4 linked regions of the Homo sapiens genome follow. The protein of the gene in region 1 interacts with the protein of each later gene in a biochemical or structural test. Each region holds a gene or a part of one and is shown in the gene's direction. Other genes may lie near its edges.

Region 1 (4,736 bases):
GCCTGCACGCAGGATGGTGGGTGCCGGCCAGACTGGCTTTCCCTGCCCAGCGGGGAGAAGATCTGAGCTGGGGTATCAGTCCCAAGGCCTCTCTCAGCCACAGCTAGGGAAGGGGGTTAAGAGAGGCTGCTTTGGCAGAGGTTTAAAATGTGTTATCTCGGGATCTGGGCTCCGCTCATTGGTGTTCATTCAGGAATACAGATACCTAGATTCACACACGTGGTGTGTTAACAGAGGCAGCTGAGTAATTATGGTCTAAGAGCGCTCAGGCTGGGTGCAGTGGCTCATGCCTGTAATCCCAGCAATTTGGGAGGCCGAGGCAGGAAGATCACTTGAGATCAGGAGTTCGAGACCAGTCTGGTCAAAATGGTGAAACCCCATCTCTACTAAAAAATACAAAAGTTAGCCAGGCATGGTCACGCATGCCTATAATCCCAGCTACTCAGGAGGCTGACGCATAAGACTTGCTTGAACCCGGGAGGTGGAGGTTGCAGTGAGCCAAGATCACGCCATTGTACTCCAGCTTGGGAGATACTCCCGCTGTCTCAAAAATAAAATAAATAAATAGGCCAGGCACAGTGGCTCACGCCTGTAATCCCAGCACCTTGGGAGGGTGAGGCGGGTGGATCACTTGAGGTCAGGAGTTGGAGACCAGCCTGGCCAACAGGTGAAACCCCATCTCTACTAAAAATACAAAAAGTAGCCGGGCGTGGTGGCGCATGCCTGTAATTCCAGCTACTCGGGAGGCTGTGGCAGGAGAATCGTTTGAACACGGGAGGCGGAGGTTGCGGTTAGCCGAGATCGCGCCATTGCACTCCAGCTTGGGCAACGAGCAAAACTCCATCTCAAAAAAAAAAAAAAAAAAAAAAAAAATTAGCCAGGCATTGTTCATGCCTGTAATCCCAGCTGCTTGGGAGGCTGAGGCAGGAGAATCACTTGAATCCAGAAGGCAGAGGTTGCAGTGAGCCGAAATTGCGCCACTGCACTCCAGCCTGGGCAACAGAGTGAGACTCCATCTCAAAATAAACAGACAAACTGGGGCTCTTACCCCAATGTTGCTCGGGAATTTTCTGGACTATGCTGGGAGTAATTATTTCTCTGATTTTTTTTGGGTAGTAGAATGGATTTCCCAGGTCCCCTAAGAGGAGGCAGGAGATGGGAGGTTGGCCGGGGTGTGCTGCTGGGGGTGGGGTTTCTTTGAGGTGAAGCCAAACCTGCTCACCTGCTGCTGGCCCCATGGCCTCTTCTCCTGTGCCTGCAGGTCCCTTGTATGTCATCGTGGAGTATGCCTCCAAGGGCAACCTGCGGGAGTACCTGCAGGCCCGGAGGCCCCCAGGGCTGGAATACTGCTACAACCCCAGCCACAACCCAGAGGAGCAGCTCTCCTCCAAGGACCTGGTGTCCTGCGCCTACCAGGTGGCCCGAGGCATGGAGTATCTGGCCTCCAAGAAGGTGTGGAACCTGAAGGCTCCCCTGGGTAATGCCAGGGTGGGAACAGAGCCCCCCTAGTCTTCCAGCCTGTGACTTATCATCTTGTGGTGGCGTTGTGGATGCACTGAGCACTGGCCCTGTGTGCCCTGTGTGTTGTCTTAGGCTCTCTGGGAACTGCAGAGTCAGGAGCACCAGTGTAGCCAGGTGGCCTTGGGGTCAGACTGATGCAGGGTCCGATCTGTGCACTGCCACTTTCTGCGTAGCCTCAGGCAGCTACTTAGCATCTTAAAATTCTTCAAATACAAAATAATAATAATATCAGCTGGGTGCAGTGGCCAAGGCGGGAGGATTGCTTGAGCTCAGGAGTGTGAGACCAGGTTGGGCAATATATTGAAACCCCGTCTTTAAAAAAAAAAAAAAAATTAAAAAATTAGCTGGGTGTGGTAGTGCGTGCCGATAGTCCCAGCTACTCGGGAGGCTGAGGTGGGAGGCTAGCTTGAGCCCAAGAGTTTGAGGCTGCACTGAGCCATGATCACACCACTGCACCCCAGCCGGGGCGACAGAGCAAGGCCCTGTCTCAAAAGAAAATAAAGTATAACAATACCTGTTGTAGAATTGTTATGAAGATAAAATGAAACTGTCTGTGAGTGTTGAGTGCAGTGTTTGGTGTGTAAGGGCTGGCCTGGTTTGAGCCCAGCCCCATGTGGACTTGCTGTGCTGGGAGGCAGGACCTAGGAGCATGCATCGCTGCAGACGCAGCAGAGGCATAAGGGGCCAGTCTTTGGGGAAGGAAGGGAGGAGCGCTTGCTGTGATGAGAAGCCTGGAGCTGGCAGAGAATGTTAGAAGAGGGAAAGCAAAGGTTCGGGGGGCAGAGCAGTGTGGCAGAAGTTCTATGAGACAAGTCGGCTAGTTGCATGGGTGGCGGCCGCCCAGAGCCTTCCAGCTCCCTCACCTCCCCGCCTCCCGCTCTCCCTTCCTCCTTCCTCAGTGCATACACCGAGACCTGGCAGCCAGGAATGTCCTGGTGACAGAGGACAATGTGATGAAGATAGCAGACTTTGGCCTCGCACGGGACATTCACCACATCGACTACTATAAAAAGACAACCAACGTGAGTGCCGACAAGGCCGCCCTGTGCTGGTGGTTTCATCTGAGAAGCAAGGAGTGGGGTGGGCTGAGAACCCACCCCCCAGTCCCTTCCCACCTGTGCCCTCATGGCCCTGCCTGGGGCCACTCCAACCTCCCCTGTGCTGCTTTCAGGGCCGACTGCCTGTGAAGTGGATGGCACCCGAGGCATTATTTGACCGGATCTACACCCACCAGAGTGATGTGTGAGTTTGTAATAGCAATTGCCAGGGAGGTGTGGGATAGAGAGCTTCTAGCACTGTAGAGTCCTGCTTTCTCCCTGGACTGAGGAGTCCTCTTTCTGCCCCAGAGAGAAAAACAAAACATTGTCTGTGGCCATTCCCTCTGCTCCAGATGTTGAAAGGCTGATCTGTTCTCCATGCTGTCTCCTGGCACTGCCCTGGGTAGAGGATTTGTGCTGGGGGAGGGGAGGCGGAGAAGCTCTAACACCCTGTGGCTCTCCGCCCATTTGCAGGTGGTCTTTCGGGGTGCTCCTGTGGGAGATCTTCACTCTGGGCGGCTCCCCATACCCCGGTGTGCCTGTGGAGGAACTTTTCAAGCTGCTGAAGGAGGGTCACCGCATGGACAAGCCCAGTAACTGCACCAACGAGCTGTAAGCCCGAGGAGATGTCGGAGGCCCTGAGCCAGGCCTTGGGGCAAGAGTGGGCTTGAGGGGCAGGGGGCTAGACTAGAGAGTATCCATCTCCAGGAGACGTCCCTGACCTTACAGTCCTGCCGCAGGTACATGATGATGCGGGACTGCTGGCATGCAGTGCCCTCACAGAGACCCACCTTCAAGCAGCTGGTGGAAGACCTGGACCGCATCGTGGCCTTGACCTCCAACCAGGTAAGGCTGCCCGTGCCAGAGCCAGAGCTCAGGCCGTCCCCACTGCGTGCACGCACCTCCCTGAGCAGGGAGGAGGGGCCCGGCCCATCGCTGCTTCCTCTCGCCCATCACAGGAGTACCTGGACCTGTCCATGCCCCTGGACCAGTACTCCCCCAGCTTTCCCGACACCCGGAGCTCTACGTGCTCCTCAGGGGAGGATTCCGTCTTCTCTCATGAGCCGCTGCCCGAGGAGCCCTGCCTGCCCCGACACCCAGCCCAGCTTGCCAATGGCGGACTCAAACGCCGCTGACTGCCACCCACACGCCCTCCCCAGACTCCACCGTCAGCTGTAACCCTCACCCACAGCCCCTGCTGGGCCCACCACCTGTCCGTCCCTGTCCCCTTTCCTGCTGGCAGGAGCCGGCTGCCTACCAGGGGCCTTCCTGTGTGGCCTGCCTTCACCCCACTCAGCTCACCTCTCCCTCCACCTCCTCTCCACCTGCTGGTGAGAGGTGCAAAGAGGCAGATCTTTGCTGCCAGCCACTTCATCCCCTCCCAGATGTTGGACCAACACCCCTCCCTGCCACCAGGCACTGCCTGGAGGGCAGGGAGTGGGAGCCAATGAACAGGCATGCAAGTGAGAGCTTCCTGAGCTTTCTCCTGTCGGTTTGGTCTGTTTTGCCTTCACCCATAAGCCCCTCGCACTCTGGTGGCAGGTGCCTTGTCCTCAGGGCTACAGCAGTAGGGAGGTCAGTGCTTCGTGCCTCGATTGAAGGTGACCTCTGCCCCAGATAGGTGGTGCCAGTGGCTTATTAATTCCGATACTAGTTTGCTTTGCTGACCAAATGCCTGGTACCAGAGGATGGTGAGGCGAAGGCCAGGTTGGGGGCAGTGTTGTGGCCCTGGGGCCCAGCCCCAAACTGGGGGCTCTGTATATAGCTATGAAGAAAACACAAAGTGTATAAATCTGAGTATATATTTACATGTCTTTTTAAAAGGGTCGTTACCAGAGATTTACCCATCGGGTAAGATGCTCCTGGTGGCTGGGAGGCATCAGTTGCTATATATTAAAAACAAAAAAGAAAAAAAAGGAAAATGTTTTTAAAAAGGTCATATATTTTTTGCTACTTTTGCTGTTTTATTTTTTTAAATTATGTTCTAAACCTATTTTCAGTTTAGGTCCCTCAATAAAAATTGCTGCTGCTTCATTTATCTATGGGCTGTATGAAAAGGGTGGGAATGTCCACTGGAAAGAAGGGACACCCACGGGCCCTGGGGCTAGGTCTGTCCCGAGGGCACCGCATGCTCCCGGCGCAGGTTCCTTGTAACCTCTTCTTCCTAGGTCCTGCACC
Region 2 (5,240 bases), on another chromosome or scaffold:
TTATTCCATTTTCCAAATAATTATTTCTATAAGCTGTATGTTTAATAGATTGAACTTCAAAAAAAAATTCTTTCTTAATTTCTGGATTAAAAAGTATGCCTGTGTCTTCTAGACCTTTACCAGAAGATGATAGTATTGAAGCAGATATACTAGCTATAACTGGACCAGAGGACCAGCCTGGTAAGAGCTTGACACTTACTTTCATTGAAATTATGGACTTTGTGTTATTTTTTAAAACACGTTTCTTTGTCCAAAAAAAAAAAAAACTTGAGTTTTTATTCCATCATAGAAGTCAAAGTATAAGTTGAACATTGAGGAAAGCATTTTTAGAATGCTTTAAAAAAAATTCCAAAAACATACACTTGGTTTTTGGAAAGTTTTACAGTAAAGGGGTGGAGGAGATCATTTTTAGTGGTAAGAGGTATCTATAAGGTCTGCCTCTATTTAAAAGACATTGATACTTTATTGATCTCTTGCCAACGATGTAGAAGCAATAATGATCAGAATAAAAATTTTGTGAATAGGTGCTTTGAAATTATGTTCAATTAATATTATTTTTTCCCAAGAATGGGGTAGTTAAAATTTTTCTTATTCAACTTTAGCATCTAAGCATTCCTTGTTACGTATCTTTTTCTTTATTTTCCAATTCCAGGCTCACTAGAAGTTAATGGAAATAAAGTGAGAAAGAAACTAATGGCTCCAGACATTAGCCTGACACTGGATCCTAGTGATGGCTCTGTATTGTCAGATGATTTGGATGAAAGTGGGGAGATTGACTTAGATGGCTTAGACACACCGTCAGAGAATAGTAATGAGTTTGAGTGGGAAGGTAAATGTTTCACTGTTTTTAATCTGATCTTTATTAATGTACTAAGGGATTTTGTTTGAAATACATCATTCTTTCTAAAGTTCATATATTTGTTACTAAGATAGGAAATTGTGCTAACCCTTGAATATTCTCAAGGACTTAAAAAGTGTGTATAGAGTACACCAGTGGCTTTTTTCCCCTCTTATTTGCCCACTGCTCTCATGTTTTTTTCATAGCTGTTTCAAAAATATTTCTTGATAATTATGGCATGCTCTTTTTTAGTCAATCAAGTAAGAAACTTTTGAAGAGACATATAGTTAACAGTTTGTGGGAAGGGAGTTCTGAAAGGAGGCATTTGGGGTGACTTTTTAAGTAGGTTTGCCTGACATTGCTCTACTTTGTGAAATGACCAACTTAAATTAATGTATACTTTTAGCCCCCGAACCTAGTATTCCTTATTACTTGTAATTCAAAGGAATTGTGCTGTTTTACTTTGCATGCTTTCTTTAATTACAAAATTGTCTACAGTATCTTATATATAGTTGTTATAATTTTTACATATTTTTTTCCATCTTGAAAATGATTTTGTTTTCATAGTAGTGTTTAGCATTCAGTATTTTACTGTAATAAAGTGTGATATGCTATATTTTTGGTTTCTTTTTTCTTCCCTGTTTTACTGGTTCAATAAACAGTCCAGTAGTAAGCAATACTTTGTAAAGATACTGAAATAGTTTTGTGCCTATGTGTTTTGTCTCTTCTTTCTTTAATGCTGCTGTAGTCATTTCCTGGAAGGATATTTTCCGTTAACAGCTTTGTCTTGGAAACAACTAACATGCAGTAGGTTTCCCCCTCCCCCCATCTTTTGGTAAGGACTATAATACTGAAATTTTGAAAATTATTACTACATTGAAAATCAGCTAAACTGCAATCTCAAAACATAAATTACACTTAATCATTGGTGCTTATGCTTTGGCTAATGCTAATTTAAATAGACTTCTGCATGTATACTTCAAAGTATTATAAATACATTTCTGCTTTATAAAACTGATCAAATGAGAAGTGATCATTGAGTAGTTAACCACTTCCTATCTGGTATTACAGTTAATTTATGTGCTCAACAACAACAAAATTGGCTCCCAGATAGCTACTTGAAGTAACCTATAGTCATAACTGCCAGGGAGAATATTGTCACAAGTTGAATCTGGAAAGGCATTGTAAGGCCAGTGTACTAAGATTTTGATGACTCTACAAATTATATTTTCTGAACTTGTGGATACACGTTTCACTATGATTAGGTGGTTTTTGCTAAATTGGGCAATAAAAGTTAAAGAACCATGATTTCCAAAGACATAAAACAGCCTCATGTTAAGAATAAGCCTTTTCCTCCTTTATGGAAGAGAGATTGAAAATTGTGCAGATGGTATAATGAAAATTCTCTGTAAAATCTAGGTAGTAAAGTGGTTAACGTATAATTTGATTTTTGTTGTGTAACAATTTGTGATTCAAAAACTTTGTATTTTGACAGATGATCTTCCAAAACCCAAGACTACTGAAGTAATTAGGAAAGGCTCAATTACTGAATACACAGCAGCAGAGGAAAAAGAAGATGGACGACGCTGGCGTATGTTCAGGATTGGAGAACAGGACCACAGGGTTGATATGAAGGCAATTGAACCCTATAAAAAAGTTATCAGCCATGGGGGTAAGAGTTACTGAGGATTTTTCAGATTGTTTAATGCAATATCAGAATTCTTTTTTTTTTGGAAGGATATCTGTTTATTAAGAGTAAATAAGCCCTGTACAGAACACAGGCGCTAGGTTGAGAGACTCGTCTTTTGTAGGACATTTCTTCCTGCTAACCAGTTCCTGGAGGGCTTGTTTTTTTTGTAACTTTACACAAGGGGCACTAATGGAAAATATAGCTTTCTCAAGACATCTGATGTCAGTTTCCCATTGTTTTGCTTCACAAACATCAACAAAGTAAACCTGAACATGCTTAGCAATTTCCCAATGTTCTTTGCTGACATTACTTTTGACATACTGTGTCAAAATTCTTAAGGTCTCCCCTCCTTTGGTAAAGTAGGCAAAACCTTACAAGGAAAACACTATAATACGTGGAAATATACTGAGTTAGATTTCCAGTCACCTGCTCTATGGCTCTGAGATGCACTATATCCATAATGGTTCCTAGGACTGTGTCCACCTGATGGTTTGGAGTACGGAAAACCAACCCTTATGGCTTAAGAGTCATCTCCCATGGAAGACGATGCTGGCCTTCTGAACGCTGGGGCTCATGGGCTTGTTGATGTGGCTTTCTGGTGTGCCAGGATCCCCTGGCAGCTCCTGTATACTTCAGTCAAGCAGTCCAGCCGGGGCTTGGCACTCTGGAAGACGGGTACTACTTGGGATATCCCATGTGGTTCCACTGGATCCTTCAATAAGATGCAGAGGTAGTAAATCACCTTCTGCATGTAAATAGCCTCATTGATGACAATATCCTTGACCTTGCCCATTTCTATGAAGGTAGTGCTTTCTTAGCCTGAAGCATAAGATGAAGTCATCTGAATGCCAAGGGAATCAATGATTAACAGTCTCCTGATCAATCTTCACAAAATGGAGATAACCAAGCAGACCTAAGAGGGTGATGAAGATGGCAGCAGAGAGGATCATGCTGTTCTCGCAGAGGGTGAAGAGTCCGTAGGCTGCCAGCCACACCGTGCAGGTGACAGCGGTGAGCGAACGCAGCGAGAGCCCAGGGCAGCTGAGGCAGAATTCCCGGCAGGAAGGGAAGTAGTAGCGGCGCTGCAGGGCCAGGCGGCCACCGCAGATATCCGAAAAGCTCCGCTCATCCTCCATGACACCCCAACTCTGCCGCCCGCACCGCACCGCGCGGCACTCCACTGCGCTCGCCTGCCCTAGCCGTTTCATGCAATATCAGAATTCTAAATACTTTTAGAAACTCTGCCTAGAGATATTATGTAATTTTGAAAGAATAATAAGCATTTCTCATTCATTTTAGAAACATGACAGGTTTAAAGTAAAAGAATAAAAGTACCATTTAAAAATGATTATATGCATACAGTAAGTTGAAAAAGTACAAAAGAATTTGTAGTGAAAACTGTCAGGTTGGGCACGGTGGCTCAGGTTTGTAATCCCAGCAATTTGGGAGGCTGAGGCAGGAGGATTACTTGAGCCCAGGAGTTCAGGACCAGCTTGGGCAACATAGACCTCGTCTCCACAAAAAAATAAAAAAAATAAAAAAATAAATAAAATTAGCCAGGAGTGGTGGCATATGCCTGTAGTCCCAGCTACTTAGGAGGCTGGGGTGGGAGGAGAGAGAGCTTGAGCTTGGGAAGATGAGGCTTCAGTGGCCGTGATCATCCCACTGCACTCTAGTTTTTTGTTTTGTTTTGGTTTTTGACCCTGTCTCAAAATTAAAAAATTTTTTAAACTGTCTCTAGGCTACCCAAAACTGGGACTGAACAGTCTCCCTAATTTATAAACAGTGAAATGCTCTGATCTTAAGTGTGCAGTTCAATGAGTTTTGACAAATGCCTATATAACCATATATACCCATATATATAAAACCCATACCCCTAAAAATGTAGAACATTTTCATTGTCCCAGAAGAATTATTTAGTACCCCTGTGCAATGAATACTCAGCTTCGGTAGCCACTGTCATATCTACCCCCTGATTAGTTTTGCCTCTTCTAGAATTTCATATATAGTAACTAAAATCATCCTATGCACTCTTTTGTTTACTTTTCAGCATGAAGTTTTTGAGATTCATCCATGTTGTTGCACGTATCCACAGTACATTCCTTCTTATTGCTGAGTAGTTTTCCATTGCTTGGATAAACCATAATTTGCTTATCCGTTTTTTTTTATGTGCATGTGAGTTGTTTCCAGCTTGGGCTGTTATAAACAAAACTGCTTTGAACATTCTTGTAGAAGTCATTTATGGATATAAGTAAAACTTGGACTCTTTTTGTTTTGTTTTGTTTTGAGACAGAGTCTTGCTCTGTCACCCAGGCTGGAGTGCAGTGGCGTGACAGCTCACTGCAACCTCTGCCTCCTCGGTTCAAGGGATTCTCCTGCCTCAGTCTCCCGAGTAGCTGGGATTACAGGTGCACGCCACCATGCCCAGCTAATTTTTTGTATTTTTAGTAGAGAAAGGGTTTCACCATGTTAGCCAGGATGGTCTCGATCACCTGACCTCGTGATTTGCTCACCCCAGCCTCCTGAAGTGCTGGGATTACAGGCATGAGCCACCGTGCCCGGCCCTAAAACTTGGACTTTTTAACCTTAACTCTTAATTTGCCTTAAAACCGTGAACAAATTTTTTTTTCTTTTTTTTTTTTTTGAGATGGAGTCTCATTCTGTCACCCAGGCTGGAGTGCAGTGGCGCAATCTCGGCTCACTGCAACCTCT
Region 3 (5,240 bases), on another chromosome or scaffold:
TATTTTGCCATTTTAAAGATGGTTTTCTGCCTTCCAACATTTTCGTTGTCATTCAAATTGTTTCTGTTTTAGAGGTAATGTATCTTTGTCTTTTCTCTTAGAGGTAATGTATCTCACACAACTTTCTCTGGATGCTTTGAGATTTTTCCTTATATTTTTAGTGGGAAAACTAAAATGTACCAACTATAAATTAAAAAAAAAATTATCCTTAGGTTTGTAGTGCTTCATCAATCTGAGACCTGATGTTCTTTGTCAGTTTTAGAAAACTCTTGGTTAGTATCTGTTTAAATGTTTAGTATCTAATTTAAACAGTTGTTCTGCCACATTCCTTTTTCTTCTTGGAGTCTGGTTAAAAAAAAAGTTGCACTATTTCCCATGCTGTTTTCTGTTTTTCATCCTTTTTCCTCTGTACCAACCTATATATTTTCTTCTGATCTTTCAGTTCACTAATCTTCCATTCTGCAGTTAAATCCACTTTTTCAGGACTTCATTTTATTACATTTTTTTCAATTTAGAATTTCCATTTTTTTAAAGATACAGTTTCTGGCAAAATTCTTGTTACCTATTTTCTTAAACATTTTAATTATAATTACTTGAAAGTCTTGTCTGTCTTCAGTATCTGCATTATATGTATGTCTTTCTGGTTTTTCATCTTAACTTTTAGCCATTTAATCCTGATGCCTGTAGTGTCTACTTAGTTTGACTAAGTGGTAGACATTGTACATGAAAAACTATGGAAACTAATGTTATTGCGTCCAGAAAGAATTGTTCTTACGGATGGTATAGGGTTAGTACATCTTGTAAAGGCTGTTCTATTTCTGGTTTGCCCTTATCATGAAGGCACAGCCCTTCAGGGGTCTCAATGGAAAGCCTGAAATTCATTCTTTTTTCTCCTAGCACTATCAAACTACTGGATTTGTAGTTAATTTTTTAGCCTTTTAGGAACTATTTTCTGCTTAGCGTCTCAGCTACACAGCCAGCTTAGGAACTGGCAACTGCCTTGAACGGAAAAGATGTGGAGAATGTCGGGTTAATTATAGTATGATCTTGGCTCCTCAAATCTTAGCTGCTTTGGTTGTTCTCCAGTGCTTTCAAACAGTTGTTTTTCTGTTTTGTATTACTATTTTAAGTTTTATCCAACTAGGGTGGTTAGTCTGATACAGGCAACATTTAGGATTAGAAGTTTCCAATTCCTATTTTCCATGATTACTTTTAAGACATTCTCAAAGCATGAAAATATAGTCTTTATCTTTAATAAGTGTTAAGCTTGTCCTCTGTGTATTTTTGCTATGGCCTCCTAACATTAGCATGATATAAAATCTTTAAAGCAGGAAACAGAAGTAACATTTATTGAGTTCCAAAAACATGCAGGCCCTTAATAAAGATTTTACCAATATTTTCAAGTCTAGTTGGAAAGATAGCACATTTCCAAAATGATATAAATTATTACCTAATATTGTACTTACATATCAAATGATTTGAAATAATACTAAAGGAAGACAAGAACATTTGTTGTACACAACTGTTCACTTAAACTCTAGAACAAGCATATGTATGAAGAGATGATGTTTCCATTTTAACAGGTGAAGAAAAATGATCAGTTTAGAAAAATTTGAAAATACAGAATCACCTACAATCTCCTTAGAGATAATTACTTAGAACATTTTTGGTCTAAGAACATTTCTAGTCTTTTTCCAGTGCATATAAAGCTTTTCAAATTAGCTGTGTGCAGTTCTAGCAGTTCAGCTTCAATCTGTTTGTAACTTTATTTCTAATGTATTTTACAATTAATTGAAATTTCTTTAGTTTACACTTTGAAATACTGATAACATTTTAATAGTGCTGACATAAAGTTTTCTAAAATATATATAGCTGACTTTTTTTTAGTAATGATCTGGTACAATGGAGTATTATTTCTTTAAGAATTATAATTTTATGTTAATTATTTATTGTGAGTGTTTTGGAAGCTGGTATAAATATTTTGCTACTTTTTATTAAGCTTCCTAATAATTTTTGTTTTTATTTTAAAGGCCAAACTGTTTTCAGATAGTAGTTCAGCACTTTAGTGAAGAACATTACATCTTTTACTTTGCAGGAGAAACTCCAGAACAAGCAGAGGTAAGATTACTGTTTCTCAAACTACAGTATACTTTTATGTTAGCCCATGTTTTCTTATTAACTGGAATAGAAAATGATCGCATTCAAGATAAAGTGACAGAACGCCTGAAATCTAATCATCTCTTATTTTAAGGAATGAGATTTCATATGTAAAAAGTTTTCTGAAAGAAATGCAAAAACAAACACAGTGAAGGGTTATTAGGAATGAAAACTCCATTTTAAATTGACCTTTAAATACTCTATGATGTTGAGGCCAACTGAGAATGCTCATTTAAAATCCTCTCTGCATAAAGGTTATAGGTCATCTCAGTATAATCCAAAGGTAAGCCAGTTAACCAGTTAGTTTTGCTAACAAGCATTATTCTTCACTGGTTGAACTCCATGTCTGAAAATAAAAGTCAGTCAACACAAGGAAAGATATTTTAGGAATCTATTCTCTAAGCCAAGTCGAGATATAATGTCTACTTTAGATTAGCTATTAATCCATGTGCAGTGTCCTTCTTATAGCGTCTATTAAGTAATTGTGTGAAGAAATAATATTTTTTAAAAAACACTCTTTAAAAAATATTTTGCAACAAAGGGAGAACCCACCTCTATAACAAAAGTAAAAAATTAGCTAGGTGTTCTGGCTTATGCCTGTAGTCCCAGCCACTGGGTAGAATGAGGCAGGAAGATTGCATTAGCACAGGAGTTTGAGTTACAGTGAGTAAGATCGAGACACTGTAAGCCAGCCTAGGCAACAAACTGAGACACTGTCTCTTAAAAAATTTTTTTGCTTTCTTTGAACCCTAATATTTCTGGAGTATATGGTTGTATTTTATACAAATACAGCTAAATTTCTGCTTATATTCTAACGAAGGAACTTAAAGGTGGTTAAGAAGTGAAAGTGGCTTTGTTGGAAATATAATTTGCCAACCCTAGATATGAGGAAGATGCTCTTAAAACTAGATCCTAGCGTGAGACTCACAGAATAAACCTGAATGAGCTTACAACTGAACGTCATATTTCACATCTTTATCAAATATCTCATTTAATGCTCATTTCACATGTAATGCACATAAAATTTTACGGCTATGTATCCCTAATTTTTAGATGAGAAAGGTAGTGCTCAAAACATTTTGGTAACTTACATGATTTTTTTAAATGTTAGAAATTGAGTTAGAAATTTAAACTTCAGTATCCTATTTTCTAAGTATTTTACCATGGTCCCTCTTTCTGAATAAAATGTCACATACCATAATGACATTTCAGCATGTTTTGCAAGCCTAACATAGAACATTTTTTAATGTATTTATACATAATATTTCTGTATTTCCATAAATGGTATTTCCAGTTTTTGTTGATTTATTGGGCTGTGGGGGTCTCTGGTTATTCTCTTCTATTTCAAAAAGCTATGGTAACTGATTTGGTTTTAATTTGCTGTAATATAAAGACAGTCTCTAGATATTAATAAAGTTCAGCTTCATTGAAATAGCCAACAAACTAAAGACATAATTGAATAAAGCAATAGTACACAGCTTTCCAGAAATATGTAAAAACCAAAGTGAATATTTAGATTTGTTTTTAATAAACCTTAGTTCTCTCCTTTTCCCCAAAGCACTAGATAAACATTTTAAAAATATGGCTGCAATTTGATTTGAATATTAGGCTAAAATGATTTTTAAAATCTAATGTTATATTTGAGAAGCTTAAAAATAACCCAAATCCCCTTATACATTTCTACCTGTATCATGGTCTAAAGTATAGATTAATATGCTTGTCATGGGATCGGTCATCACATTATCAGTTGGTTTTACAATCAGCACTCTCCCCCTCTCACAAAGTGTATCAAGTTAAATTCCACCTAAGCTTGCCTCAAGTATAACAGCTTAATTATACAGTTAATTTCCCCAAGGTAGTATCTGTTTGGGAGAAATAGTTTCTTTAATGTAAATTTGATTTTTTGGCTAATTAATGGCCACTCGATGTGTTTCATACATAAATTCAAACAAAGATTTATACAGAATTACAATTGTTTTGGTTGTTTTATTATTGTTATTGTTATGTTATTGTTATTTTATTATTGGTTATTGTTATGAAGTACAGTATAGTCTGAGAATAGAAATGGCAGTCTAGAGAAGGAAAAAATTGTTGAATTTGAAAAAAAAAACCTAACTGATGATTTGGAAGCCAAATAAACTAGTGTATATTTCTTTGAAGTGCTGTTTTTCTTTGCAGGATTGGATGAAAGGTCTGCAGGCATTTTGCAATTTACGGAAAAGTAGTCCAGGGACATCCAATAAACGCCTTCGTCAGGTGAAGCTTAATTTTCTTGGATTTTTAATTGTCACATTTTGCTCTAACACTTTGCTCTTTTTATTTTATTTTTATCTGAACTGTTTTGGACATCATATGGGGTTAAGCCATGCTGCCACTTGCTTCAGTAGCAGGAAAACGTTACTTCTTTATGAAAGAGAATGTTCTTTCTTAGTCCATGCCAACTGTTAAAAACATAAGAAAGATTATTCTTCCACTTTAAATAACAACACTAAACCAACACAGCAGAAACGGTTCTGTTGGGCACTTAATTTTCCTTCAAAAACTTATTTTGGCCTCTTTCAAAAAAGTAGAACATTGAAAAGATCATCAGATTTATAGCACTAATCCCAATAAACTTTTTTGGGATTTTCATTTTGAAGAACAGCTTTTAAAACCTACTGCTTAACTCTTAGGAAATATTTAATCTTATTTGAAACTGTAACATGCCCTATACTTTGAGATTTGTGGAGAGTTAAGCTAGGCTTTCTCTTTTTTTTGCCTTTACAAGGGTAACTTTATAACCTCCATTTCTTGGCTTTTTTCTTTTTAGTAATCCCTGTATAATTGGAAGAAGTTAGGCAAATTTTGACATTCTCAAGGTTTAAAGAAAGTTTAGTACAATATTTATTTACTAACCAAAGTGTCTCCTGTTCTCTTTGTGCGAATATCTGATAAGCTGAGTGATTAACATACTGTTCTACTGGGAGTGGATAATGGTTGATATTTAGGTGACTAAATAGTCCCTGTAACCCAAAGTCTGGCTCTTCCCCAGGGAAATTTAAGTATACACACAATCGCCATGTCTTCATAACATTGTAACATTT
Region 4 (5,240 bases), on another chromosome or scaffold:
GTTAATTGAAGACAATGAATACACAGCAAGACAAGGTAAAATTACTTTTACATAAAAGCTTGTAATGTGTTGTGTGTTTTGCTTAACTCTCTTGACTATACAGGGTTTTCCAGAATAAGAATTGTTTTAGCTTCCCTCAGAAGAGTCATAGAGACATTGATTTCATTCATAAAATCATGTACTGCTGTGGCTTTCTGATAGTTATTTCCTCCAAGAAAGAACTTGACTAGGTATCCTTTGCATTATACATAGAGCAAGTAGTAGCCTCTTTACACTTCTTTTGACATGACAACAAATATATTTTAATTTCTTTCCTAGAAAGGCCAGAGGTTCTCAGTCAGAGGAGATATTGCCCTGTACCGCCACTCACCAGGGGACATCTGACAATGTCTACAGACTTTTTTGGTGGTTACAACCTGGGGGCTACTGCTTGACATCTAGTGGGTAGAGGCCAGGTATACTGCTGAACCTCCTACAGTGTACAGAAATGTGCAGGCAAACCCCCCCTTCCCCCCACAACAGAATTATCAGGCCCAAAATGGTAGCGGTGCTGAGATTGAGAAACCCTGCTTTAGACATAGTGCTTTCTTTCAACCTCCATACTTCTGTACAGTTACCTCCATCTGGAATGCCTTCCTATCTGTAATGTTTGTTGTTGTTGTTGTTTTTCGAGATAGGGTCTCCCTCTGTTGCTCAGGCTAGAGTATAGTGGCGTGATTTCAGCCCACTGCAGCCTTGACCTCCTGGGGCTCAGGTGATCCTCCCACCTCAGCCTCCTGAGTAGCTGGAACTACAGGTGCACACTACCACGCCTGACTAATTCTTTGTATTTTTTGTAGAGACGAAGTTTTGCCATGTTGCCCAAGCTGGTCTCGAACTTCTGGGCTCAAGCAGTCCTCCTGCCTTGGCTTCCCAAAGTGCTAAAATGGCAGGCGTGAGACACCATGCCCGGCCTGTAATCTTTACATGTGAAAATCCTAACCATTCTTTAGGGCCTAATTTAGCTGCCACTTTTTTTTTCAATAGTTTTTGGGAAACTAGTTCTTTAGTGGTGATTTCAGTGCACCCATCACCCAAGCATCTTGCACTGTACCCAATATGTAGGTTTTTTTGTTTGTTTTTTTGAGACGGAGTCTCACTCTGTTGCCCAGCCCAGGCTGGAGTGTAGCGGCACGATCTCGGCTCACTGCAACTTCCGCCTCCCAGATTCAAGCGATTCTCCTGCCCCAGCCTCCCGAGTAGCTGGGATTACAGGCTCGTACCACCACACCCAGCTAATTTTTGTATTTTCAGTAGAGACGGGGTTTCACCTCCAACATGTAGTCTTTTATCCACCCCCCAACCTTTCCCCCTTACTCCCCAAAGTCCATTATATTACTCTTATGCCTTTGTGTCCTCATAGCTTAGCCCCACTTTTAAGTGAGACCATACAATATTTGGTTTTCCATCCCTGAGTTACTTCACTTAGAATAATGGCCTCTAGCTCTAAGTTTCTGCAAAAGACATTATTTCATTCCTTTTTACGGCTGAGTAGTATACCATGGTGTATATATGCCACATTTTTTTTTATCCACTCATTGGTCAATGGTCATTTAGATTGGCTCCATATCTGCAATTGCGAATTGTGCTGCTATAAACATTTGTGGATGTATCTTTTTCATATAATGATTTTTTTTTTTTTGCTTTGAGACACAGTCTCAATCTGTTGCCCAGGCTGGAGTGCAGTGGTACAATCTCAGCTCACTGCAACCTCCACCTCCCAGGTTCAAATGATTCTCCTGCCTCAGCCTCCCCTGTAGCTGGGATTACAGGCACCTGCCACCAGGCCCGGCTAATTTTTGTATTTTAGTAGAGACACGGTTTCACCATGTTGGCCACGCTGGTCTCAAACTCCTGACCTCAGGTGATCCACACGCCTTGGCTTCCCAAAGCGCTGGGATTACAGGCGTGAGCCACCACACCTGGCTGATTTCATTTCCTTTGGGAAGATACCCAGTAGTGGGTTTGCTGGATTGAATGGTAGTTCTGCTTTTCGTTCTTTAAGGAGTTTCCATACTGTTTTCCATAGTGGTTGTACTAATTTACATTCCCACCATCAGTGGAAAAATGTTCCCTTTTCACCACATCCACACCAACATCTATTGTTTTTTTTTTTTACTTATTCATTATGGCCATTCTTACAGGAGTAAGGTAGTGTCTCACTGTAGTTTTAATTTGCATTTCCCTGATGATTAGTGATGTTGTATGTTGTAGTTGCTCCTGGTTTTTTTTGTTTTGTTTTGTTTTTGAGATGGAGTCTCACTCTGTCACCCAGGCTGGAGTGCAGTGGCGCGATCTTGGCTCACTGCAAGCTCTGCCTCCCGGGTTCTCGCCATTCTGCCTAAGCCTCCCGAGTAGCTGGGACTACAGGTGCCTGCCACCAAGCTCGGCTAATTTTTTTTTTTGTATTTTTAGTAGTGACGGGGTTTTACCGTATTAGCCAGGATGGTCTCAATCTCCTGACCTCATGATCCGCCCACCTCGGCCTCCCAAAGTGCTGGGAATACAGGCGTGAGCCACCGCGCCTGGCCAAGTTTTGCTTTTTTGCCCAGACTGGAGTGAAGTGGCATGATCTTGGCTCACTGCAACCTCTGCCCCCCAGGTTCAAGCAATTCTCCTGCCTCAGCCTCCCGAGTAGCTGGGATTACAGGCATGCACCACCACACCTGGCTAAGTTTTGTATTTTTGGTACAGACAGGGTTTCACCGTGTTGGCCAGGCTGGTCTTGAACTCCTGACCTTAGGTGATCTGCCCACCTCGGCCTCTCAAATTGCTGGGATTATAGGCGTGAGCCACTGTGCCCAACCACCTGCCACTTTTTAAATAAAACATTTTGTAATGGTGCCAAGGAAAATTGATCATCTGTTTGTCTAAATATCTAAAGAACTCTGTTTTAAAACACTATCTACAAACACATATAAATAACTTAAAGAATGTAAGACACCTATAATATTATTTCTGCAATAAGTTTATAAACTTCATGAAAGCCATGCTTTTTTTTTTTTTTTTTTTTTTTTTTTTGAGACGGAGTCTCACTCTGTTGCCCAGGCTGGAGTGCAGTGGCGCAATCTCAGCTCACTGCAAGCTCCGCCTCCTGGGTTCACACCATTCTCCTGCCTCAGCCTCCCGAGTAGCTGGGACTACAGGCTCCTGCCACCTCGCCCAGCTAATTTTTTGTATTTTTGGTAGAGACGGGGTTTCACCATGTTAGCCAGGATGGTCTCAATCTCCTGACCTCATGATCCACTCACCTCGGCCTCCCAAAATGCTGGGATTACAGGCTTGAGCCACCGCGCCCGGCCGAAAGCCATGCTTTTTAGGTTTCCATAGTGATTAGCATAATGCCCTCCACAAAAAAGATATACAGTAAGTATTTGAGTTAATTAACATGGACTTTTAAAAGTAGTACAATAAAATTTTCCAGAATGATATAAAAAGTAGGAAAACCCATAAACATTATAACTCAATAGAATATTCACTCATCAACCAATAGTTAACTACAGCTATTAGGTGCCAGACTGTACTTAAAAGTTACACATATTATAACATGTATCTTTGGCTTACTAGAGCTTCAACCTCTATTTTCTTAAATTGTTTTCTGTTCCCACAGCCAACTTATTTTTTATATCATCAGCTGTCTAATCAGGAAGAAATGTGATTTATTTCAATATGAATTTTAAAAATTAAAGAATTTTTATCCCATGTATCTTGTACATTTAAAGAATTGACACTGATGACTACAGTAGAGATATTGACAGAACATTAGCCCTGCATATGCTATGTTTACACAAATAGATTTTTAAAAAACAATTAAGCAAGATGGTCAACATTATTTTAGGTGCAAAATTTCCAATCAAATGGACAGCTCCTGAAGCTGCACTGTATGGTCGGTTTACAATAAAGTCTGATGTCTGGTCATTTGGAATTCTGCAAACAGAACTAGTAACAAAGGGCCGAGTGCCATATCCAGGTAAGCTTGCATTTTATAGCTCTTGGTTATCTCATGAGTGGCTTTATCAGGAGTTTATTAGGAACAGAATTGTAAGCGGGGAAAAGGCCTTTATTTCTTCTCATAGTCCCCCTGCCTCTCCCTCTCCCCACTCCTTCCCTTTACTGTGGCATTGGATGGGTAACTGTGGCATTGGACGGGTAAGTCAGTGAAAGCCACGATCCTTGACAGGGTGAGCACATGAGATAGGCCCCACATTCACCTCAGCTTTCTCAGGACATTTTCCAAAGGGGCCTCTTACTGTTCTCTCAGATAATAAACATATCTTAAATATCCTGGCTCATCCACCCTATACCCTAAATAACTGTTCTTTCCCAGTAGTGTGATTGGTGTTTTGTTTTTTTTTTTTTTTTTTTTTTAAACACAGTCTTGCTCTGTCACCCAGGCTGGAGTGCAGTGGTACAGTCTGGCTCACTGCAACCTGTCTCCCGGGTTCAAGCAATTCTCCTGCCTCAGCCTCCCAAGTAGCTGGGATTACAGGCACCCACCACCACACCCAGCTAATTTTTTGTATTTTTAGTAGAGATGGGGTTTTGCCATGTTGGCTAAGCTGGTCTCGAACTCCTGACCTCAGGTGATCCACCTGCCTAGGCCTCCCAAAGTGCTGGGATTACAGGCGTGAGCCACCGTGCCCATCATGGTATATTTTTTTAAATATGTACTTGCCTTGTTTTCTTCAGTAGATTATTTTGAGATTCTTTTCTTGTTTTATTTCTCTAACCTATTTATAAACCAGCACTTTAATAAATATATCTGCCATTAATAAAGAGGAAAAATGAAAGTGTTTCCCTTTCAAAATTAAGAGACTTTTTTTTTTTTTTTTTTTTTGAAATGGAGTCTCGCTCTGTCGCCCAGGCTGGAGTGCAGTGGCACGATCTCAGCTCACTGCAGCCTCCACCTCCCAGCTTCACGCCATTCTCCTGCCTCAGCCTCCCGAGTAGCTAGGACTATAGGCACCCGCCACCACGCCCAGCTAATTTTTTGTATTTTTAGTAGAGACGGGGTTTCACCGTGTTAACCAGGATGGTCTCGATCTCCTGACCTTGTGATCTGCCCGCCTCGGCCTCCCAGAATGCTGGGATTACAGGCGTGAGCCACCGTGCCTGGCCTCAAAATTAAGAGATTTATATAGTTTCTAGGGGGAAGGAGAAATTTTAGCTCACTTGAAATTCAGCGATCAGTATTACTTTAG

The links.
Region 2: of the proteins of FGFR1 (region 1) and BNIP2, one has a biochemical effect on the other in vitro, tested with the Homo sapiens proteins (one study listed by BioGRID).
Region 3: the proteins of FGFR1 (region 1) and RASA1 form a complex in vitro, tested with the Homo sapiens proteins (one study listed by BioGRID).
Region 4: the proteins of FGFR1 (region 1) and YES1 form a complex in vitro, tested with the Homo sapiens proteins (one study listed by BioGRID).

What each region holds. Positions count from the first base shown.
Region 1 is NC_000008.11:38,412,586-38,417,321, reverse strand, and holds part of FGFR1 (fibroblast growth factor receptor 1 isoform 1 precursor), read left to right. Parts: coding exon 1-16; intron 17-1,261; coding exon 1,262-1,452; intron 1,453-2,420; coding exon 2,421-2,543; intron 2,544-2,692; coding exon 2,693-2,763; intron 2,764-3,032; coding exon 3,033-3,170; intron 3,171-3,298; coding exon 3,299-3,404; intron 3,405-3,517; coding exon 3,518-3,694; 3' UTR 3,695-4,726; coding exon of another isoform or gene 4,727-4,736. UniProt on the Homo sapiens protein: Tyrosine-protein kinase that acts as a cell-surface receptor for fibroblast growth factors and plays an essential role in the regulation of embryonic development, cell proliferation, differentiation and migration.
Region 2 is NC_000015.10:59,675,181-59,680,420, reverse strand, and holds part of BNIP2 (BCL2/adenovirus E1B 19 kDa protein-interacting protein 2), read left to right. Parts: intron 1-112; coding exon 113-180; intron 181-652; coding exon 653-829; intron 830-2,333; coding exon 2,334-2,510; intron 2,511-5,240.
Region 3 is NC_000005.10:87,367,783-87,373,022, forward strand, and holds part of RASA1 (ras GTPase-activating protein 1), read left to right. Parts: intron 1-2,030; coding exon 2,031-2,118; intron 2,119-4,335; coding exon 4,336-4,413; intron 4,414-5,240. UniProt on the Homo sapiens protein: Inhibitory regulator of the Ras-cyclic AMP pathway. Stimulates the GTPase of normal but not oncogenic Ras p21; this stimulation may be further increased in the presence of NCK1.
Region 4 is NC_000018.10:731,603-736,842, reverse strand, and holds part of YES1 (tyrosine-protein kinase Yes), read left to right. Parts: coding exon 1-35; intron 36-3,877; coding exon 3,878-4,009; intron 4,010-5,240. UniProt on the Homo sapiens protein: Non-receptor protein tyrosine kinase that is involved in the regulation of cell growth and survival, apoptosis, cell-cell adhesion, cytoskeleton remodeling, and differentiation.